Homo sapiens: one gene and its partner. The main gene of each other region encodes a partner of the protein of the gene in region 2 in a complex. Each region holds a gene or a part of one and is shown on either strand. Other genes may lie near its edges.

Region 1 (3,750 bases), on a different chromosome or scaffold from region 2:
TTTAATGCTCATTCTATTTGATTCTAAAGGGAAAAAAATCCTACTGCGATTTTTATTTGAATTAAGAGTGAATTTATAAATTACTTTGTTGAAAACTGACATCTTTATGATACTGAATCTTGCCATCCACAAAAACGATACATATTTTTGTCCTTCTATAAAGCCCTTTCAAGTTTTGTACATCTTGTTAAATGCATTCCCAAGTTCTTTATAACTCTTCTTGCAATTATTAATGGAATTGATTTTAATTACAGTATCCAATGGCTTATTGCTGGTACAAAGGAATATGCCCTTCCCTCTTTACAGAATTGTTGTGATGGTAGAACGAGTTAATAGAAATAAAAATTTTATAAGTGGTAAAGCAAAATACATATATATGATATTACTGAGCTCCCTTGAACATAAATTAAAGTTAACTTTAGTAAGTACTGAGGGTGGATTTTTAAAAAAAACTCTTCAAGGGTTGGTCCATCATTTTGAGATTATTAGGAATGAGTTTATATGGGTTTTCATATTAATTTAACAAATACATTATTATTGAGCTTTTACTATACATGGGTACTATTTTAGTCACTAGAGATACAGCAGTGGAAAACACTGAAAAGCAAGTAAGACAATTTTAGACAATAGCAAGTGCTACAAAGACAACACATATTGTGATAAAACTGAAAGCAAAAAGAAAAAAAAACACAAAAAGACAACACAACAGATCTTTTTCTTAATGATGGGAAGCGACTTCTTAGATTGGATGGACAGGCAAGACATCACTGAGGAAGTGACTTTTGAAGACCTCAATAATAGAGACAGTCTTGTATAAAGTTAAAGGAAGAATATTTTAGGCGGAATGTGGCAAGTGCAAAGGCCCTGAAGTAAGAACCACCTAGGTATGTCTGAGGAACAGAAATGAAGCTAGTAAGGTTTGAACACCATGACAGATTGGAAGCCCGGTAAAAGATAAGGTGGGAGTTTGAATTTTAAGTACAGTGGGAAGCCATTGGAGTTTAAATCAGTGGAATACATAAGCAAATTTACGTTTTTAAAGATCAGACCAGTAGGATGCGGCGGCTTACGCCTGTAACCACAGCACTTTGGGAGGGTAAGGCAGGCGGATCACCTGAGGTCAGGAGTTTGAGACTAGCCTGGCCAACATGGTGAAACGCCATCTCTACTACAAATACAAAAATTAGCTGGGCATGGTGGAGGACGCCTGTAATCCCAGCTATTCGGGAGGCTGAGGCAGGAGAATCGCTTGAACCCAGGAGGCAGAGGTTACAGTGAGCTGAGATTATGCCACTGCACTCCAGCCTGGGCGACAGAGCGAGACTCCAACTCAAAAAAAAAATAATAAATAAATCACACTGGCTTTCAGGATGGAAAAATGGATGGTATGGAACAAGAGGAAAAACAAGGAAATCTATTAGAAGTCTGGATTAGGATGGTAGCAGTCAAGAGTGAAAATACCTTTTCTGTTAATTCAGTTCAATATGACAGTGGCTTTTATTTTTTAGTTACCAAAATGGTGCTCAGAATGAATATATACATTAATGTATATAAATATACATGAATTTAAATACATACACTGAATTATTTGTATGATTTTCCTTTCATTAGATTGTTGAAATAATTATGTTCTATTTCTCTTTGTATCTCCACAATGCTTTGTCCATAGTAGTTAGTAAGTGAGATAGGCAACAAAAGCTTTAAGTGGAGGAGGGAGTGTGGGGGGTCTTATTTGTAAGATTTCTGCACTACAGGATAATCAATAAAACACACCTGCCGGCCCACTCGGTCAGGAGGAGGCCACAATGCATCATCCTCTTTGGTAATTTCACTGTCGTCAATTATTCTCTTCAGTTCCTCCATCACGCTTTTATGTACATAAGCCTGAACGCAAGTTAAAAAACAAAATGTATGTTGTATCCTTAAGCAGTGCTTTGACTCAGATAGTGATGGAAGATAAAAATAACTGTTCCTGCAGACTTATTTCTGGCATCTCCTTAAGTGGGAAGACATTCATGCTCAACCTCGGCATGATGCAGGTGAGGGACACGGTCAGAAGTATCCAGTAACTGCACCTCAGTCCCCTATCTAGCTGTTACTACCTCCTGGTACATCCTGTTCACATGGCCCTTCTGCCTGCCCACATACCCAACTCACAACGAAACCCAAAACAGGTCTGTGAGTGCCCCCTGCCATGGTTTGAATGTTTTTGTCTCCTCCAAAAAAATCATACTGAAATTAATCCCCAAAGCAACAGTGTTAAGAGATAGGGCCTTTAGGAGGTGATCAGGCCTTGAGGGCAGAGGCCCCAGGGATAGATTAGTGCTTTAGGAGAGAGCTTAAGGGAACTAGCTGGCCCCTTTCTTGTTCTTTCACCATATGAGGACACAGCATTCATTCCTTCTGGAGGATGCAAAAACAAGGCACAGTTGTGGAAGCAGAGACTGGGCCCTCACTAGACACTGAACTTGCCAGCGCCTTGATCTTGGACTTTCCAGCCTCCAAAATTGTGAGAAATATATTTTTACTGCTTACAAATTACCCAGTCTCAGGCATTTTGTTGCAGCAAAAAAGAGACTGCGACACCCACATGCCCTGGTTATTCTTTTTTTTTTTTTTTTTTGAAACGGAGCCTTGCTCTGTCGCCCAGGCTGGAGTGCAGTGGTGCGATCTCGGCTCATTGCGAACTCTGCCTCCTGGGTTCATGCCATTCTCCTGCCTCAGCCTCCTAAGTAGCTGGGACTACAGGCACCCGCCACCATGCCTGGCTAATTTTTTTGTATTTTCAGTACAGACAGGGCTTCACCGTATTAGCCAGGATGGTCTCGATCTCCTGACCTCGTGATCCGCCCGCCTCGGCCTCCCAAAGTGCTGGGATTACAGGTGTGAGTCACCGCGCCCGGCCAGTTATTCTTAACTAGGTAATACACTCCTGAGGAGCAAAATGTATTTTAAAAGATATGCCTGTGTAAAAAAATAGTGAGGATATTGACATGTGTGAATAAGCATAAAATCAATAGCTAAAATAACAATATGAAAATATATGCTAAGACATTTTCAAAGGTGGCAAAGTGGTTAAAAGGAAAGAGTAGCTTTGATGAAGCCTTAATGATGTAGTAGAAATCACAGAACGGAGAATACAAACTTTACTGGGGCAGGATTGGGAATTCCTGCTGTATCTCTTACTAGCAGGGGTAACTCAGAACAAGCCTCATAATTAATACCTGGGCCTTTATTTTCTTATTTGTAAGGGGGCTATAATACCCTCCCCCATCACATGGGCTTACAATCAGGGTTAAATAAGATGCCACGCCTGACATCTAACATGCATTCAATGATGTCAACTGCTTTCCCATGCTCCCTTTCCCACTCAGATGTAAATTAAATAGCTCTTCATTGTGTACCATGTACACAGGGAATATAGAGCACTTTAAATAGAACATATTTAATTTTATGACAGCACTTGGGAGTGGGAGGTAGCTTTTATTATTCCTGTTTTTACAGGTGAAGAAACAGAGATTTATCAAGTTCAGCCAGGAACTTGCCCAAGGTCACATGGGGTAGTAAGCAGCAGACTCAGGGTTCAAACCAAGGTATGTCAAAGGTTACCAGTAATTGATTCCACAATGTAAAATAAAAAAATCCCAACTAAAAGATGATTTGGGAAATAATCCAGAAGCTGTCTACAGACATGTGTCTCTCTCCCTGTTCTTTATCTTTCAATACTACTAGAAACAATAAAAACAATGC
Region 2 (3,750 bases):
AAAAAACTGAAAAATAAAGTAACATCATTTTCACAGGATGGCCCGGCTGGACTGCTCAGTATAATCAGGCTCAGAATGGAAGTCCTCAGGATGGACACAAGAGGAACTTGTTGCCCAAGCAGCCAGGATGGCCAGACTCCCAGGCTAGCAGCACAAAGCTCAGGAGGATGGGTTTTGTGGCACTCCCAACATATATCCTCAGGTACTGGAAGCATATAAGCAGAGACACAAAGCTTACCTGGGTGGGGAAGGTTCATTCCTGGCTGCACAAGCATGCCCTGTGGAGGCAGCGGGGCAGGGCTGTCACCATGGGTATAGATTGGTCCCTGGAACTGCACTGTAAGATATCACATTGGGACTCTCATAAACCCTTACTCTTCACATGGACAAGTCTCCTTGTTCCCCAAGCCCTTTAAAAGATGTTCTCAATATTCCATGCGAAGAAAACAGCAACCAGACAATGTTTGATAACCACTATAAGAGGTCAGAAGAGAAATTCAGGAGCCAGGAGCCTGGTATCTTACTTCACTTCACCCTGCCAAGAAAAGTACCCCAACAGTAAGAAAAAACTCACGTGGATCATAGTAATGTCCCTCCATGATACTGATATGCACTGGAGGGGCGGGGGGCTCTGGCACAGGTCTTTGCCGCTGGGATGAATAGCGTTTGGCTCGACCACCCTGGACACCCTGAGACAAAGAAAGAGGCCTAAACAATAAGAATTCTAGAGGGCTCTCATATCAAGTCCTACCTTCCTTTAGGTGTTGAAAAACACTTGGTACATGGCAGGTATTTAATGGATATTTGCAAAGTGAGCTGAAAAATAATGAAAAGATATCAAGATTTGAACCTAAACCTTCTACCTTACATTTAGGAGATCCAAATTAAAAGAAACATGCATAATCAATGGAAAAACTGACTTTATCTTGGCCGGGCGTGGTGGCTCATGCCTGTAATCCCAATACTTTGGGAGGCCAGGGTGGGTGGATCATGAGGTCAGGAGTCAGGACCAGCCTGGCCAACATGGTGAAACCCTGTCTTTACTAAAAATACAAAAATTAGCTGGGCATGATGGCACGTGCCTGTAATGCCAGCTACTCGGGAGGCTGAGGCAGAATTGCTTGAACTGGGACCCAGGAGGCAGAGCTTGCAGTGAGCCGTGATCCCGTCACTGCACTCTAGCCTGGGCAACAGAGCGAGACTCTGTCTCAAAAAAAAAGAAAGAAAGAAAAGAAAAAAAAAAAAGACCTTATCTTGGTTTAAACAATGAACAAGCTGTGTAACAGGCAGCTCCCTCCCCCATCTACCCCTTTCCCCTTCTGTACCATTTCTTCCATCCGGTTAAACTGAGGTGGAGGTCCTGCTCCCATGTGTATATGGTTGGGCATACCTGTAATACACCAAAAAAGTCACTTCTGCAGATCAGACATACGTGAGTGGGACTCAAAGATACTATCAAGAGACAGGTTTAAGTGTCAACATAAGGAATGCCTTTTTTCTTTTAACTAATAAAATTCTCTATAAACTATCTCTGCTTTCTGTCAACACCAGCATTTAGAAATTTGTCCCCACTGTCTGCCATCTTAATATAGCAATAAAGCCCTTGAAAATGAAAAATAAAATGACTTCAGTGAAGAAAATCAAATTCAAATTTTTTCCTATCAAATTGTTCCCTGCATAGAATCCCTGAGAGATTATAATTAGCACATTACATTATCCAACATATTGAAAAATCTCAGCCCAAGAGTTTCTGAGCAACAGCTGGACAAGGGAGGGATGCTTTGTAAATCTACTTGATTATATCCATTCACAGGGGTCTGGGTTGGAAGTTTGAAAGGAGATTCTCCTCTGGCTAAAATGACTCAAGACAAAAAGGAATGTTCTAGAGATTGTCCTCCAATAGTAAGAAGGGTGCTGCAACTCCAATTGAGGAGTTCCAATATTTAAGTTAGATTTCAGACTAAGGGAAGATCCTTTGATCTATCTGGCTGGAGAAAAACAAACCACAATAGGCAAAATGGGTAATAGGTAGGTCTTACTCTCTAAAACTATGCTGCCCAATATGATATCCACTAACCAAATGTGGACACTTAAGTTTCAATTAATTAAAAGTTCAATTCCGGCTGGATGCAGTGGCTCATGCTTATAAGCCCAGCACTCTGGGTGGCAGAGGTAAGACTGCTTGAGCCCAGGAGTTCAAGACCAGCCTGGAAAACACAGTGAGACCCCCCGTCTTTTCAAAAAATAAAAAAAATCAGCCAGGTGTAATGATGTGTGCTTATGATCTTAGCTACTGAGGAGGCTGAGATGGGAGGATTGCTTGAGCCCTGGAGGCGGAGGTTGCAGTGAGCCAAGGTCACGCTACTGCACTCCAGACTCTAGCCTGGGTGACAAAGTGGGACCCATCTAAAAAAAAAAAAAAACAAAAAAAAAAACTATATCTATGTAAACACAACAACAACAAAAACACAAAAGTACAATCATTACACAAAGTTCTATTGGGCAATCTGTCTCTAGAAGATTAAGGAAATAAGGGAGGCTTGCCTTTCAAATATATTAGAGAAGATCTTGATCAAAATTCAACTGAATAAATTTCTGCCTTCAAATATTTAACCATTAGTTCAAATAATAACGTTGTCTTCTTCTACTTTTTGTGGAAAATGATCCTGTACTCAGGAGGCTCAATGATGACCGGGCAGGTGCAGTGTCTTCCATCTGTAATCCCAGCGCTTTAGGAGGATCTCTTGAGCCCAGGAGTTCAAGATTAGCCTGGGCAATATAGCAAGACCCATCACTACAAAAAATTTTTTAAAAATTAGCTGGGGCTGGCACAGTGGCTCACGCCTGTAATCCCAGCACTCTGGGAGGCCAAGATGGGTCGATCACTTAAGGTCAGGAGTTCGAGACCAGCCTGGCCAACATAATGAAACCCCATCTCTATGAAAAATACAAAAATTAGGTGTGGGCCAGGCACGGTGGCTCATGCCTGTAATCCCAGCACTCTGGGAGGCCAAGGTGGGCGGATCACGAGGTCAGGAGATCGAGACCATCCTGGCTAACACGGTGAAACCGTCTCTACTAAAAATACAAAAAAAAAAACTAGCCAGTCGCGGTGGTGGGCGCCTGTAGTCCCAGCTATTCAGGAGGCTGAGGCAGGAGAATGGCGTGAACCCAGGAGGCAGAGCTTGCAGTGAGCCGAGATCACACCACTGCACTCCAGCCTGGGCAACAGTGAGACTCTGTCTCAAAAAAAAAAAAAAAAAATTAGCCAGGTGTGGTGGTGAGAGCCTGTAATCCCAGCTACTCAGGAGGCTGAGGCAGGAGAATTGTTTGAGCCCTGGACGCAGAGGTTGTAGTGAGCCAAGATCGTGCCACTGCACTCCAGCCTGGGCAACAGAGCAAGTCTCTGTCACAAAAAAAAAAAAAAAAAAAAAAAGGCCAGGCACGGTGGCTGTGGCTCACACCTGTAATCCCGGCACTTTGGGAAGCCAAGGTGGGAGGATCACAAGGTCAAGAGATCAAGACCATCCTGGCCAACATGGTGAAACCCGGTCTCTACTAAAAATACAAAAATTAGCCCAGCGTGGTAGTGCACGCCTATACTCCCAGCTACTCGGGAGGCTGAGGCAGGAGAATCACTTGAACCCGGAGGTGGACATTACAGTGAGCCGAGATCGTGCCACTGCATCTAGCTTAGGCAACAGAGCAAGACTCCATCTCAAAACAAATAAATAAATAAAAATACAAAAA

What was found. Proteins that work in one complex are often made in the same cells at the same time.
Region 1: CASC3 (region 2) and MAGOH share a complex: the UniProt entries of both Homo sapiens proteins name them as parts of the mRNA splicing-dependent exon junction complex.

Annotation. Positions count from the first base shown.
Region 1 is NC_000001.11:53,231,769-53,235,518, forward strand, and holds part of MAGOH (protein mago nashi homolog), read right to left. Parts: intron 1,885-3,750; coding exon 1,774-1,884; intron 1-1,773. UniProt on the Homo sapiens protein: Required for pre-mRNA splicing as component of the spliceosome. Plays a redundant role with MAGOHB as core component of the exon junction complex (EJC) and in the nonsense-mediated decay (NMD) pathway.
Region 2 is NC_000017.11:40,164,437-40,168,186, reverse strand, and holds part of CASC3 (protein CASC3), read right to left. Parts: intron 1,391-3,750; coding exon 1,326-1,390; intron 817-1,325; coding exon of another isoform or gene 748-816; exon of another isoform or gene 690-747; coding exon 575-689; intron 338-574; coding exon 239-337; intron 1-238. UniProt on the Homo sapiens protein: Required for pre-mRNA splicing as component of the spliceosome. Core component of the splicing-dependent multiprotein exon junction complex (EJC) deposited at splice junctions on mRNAs.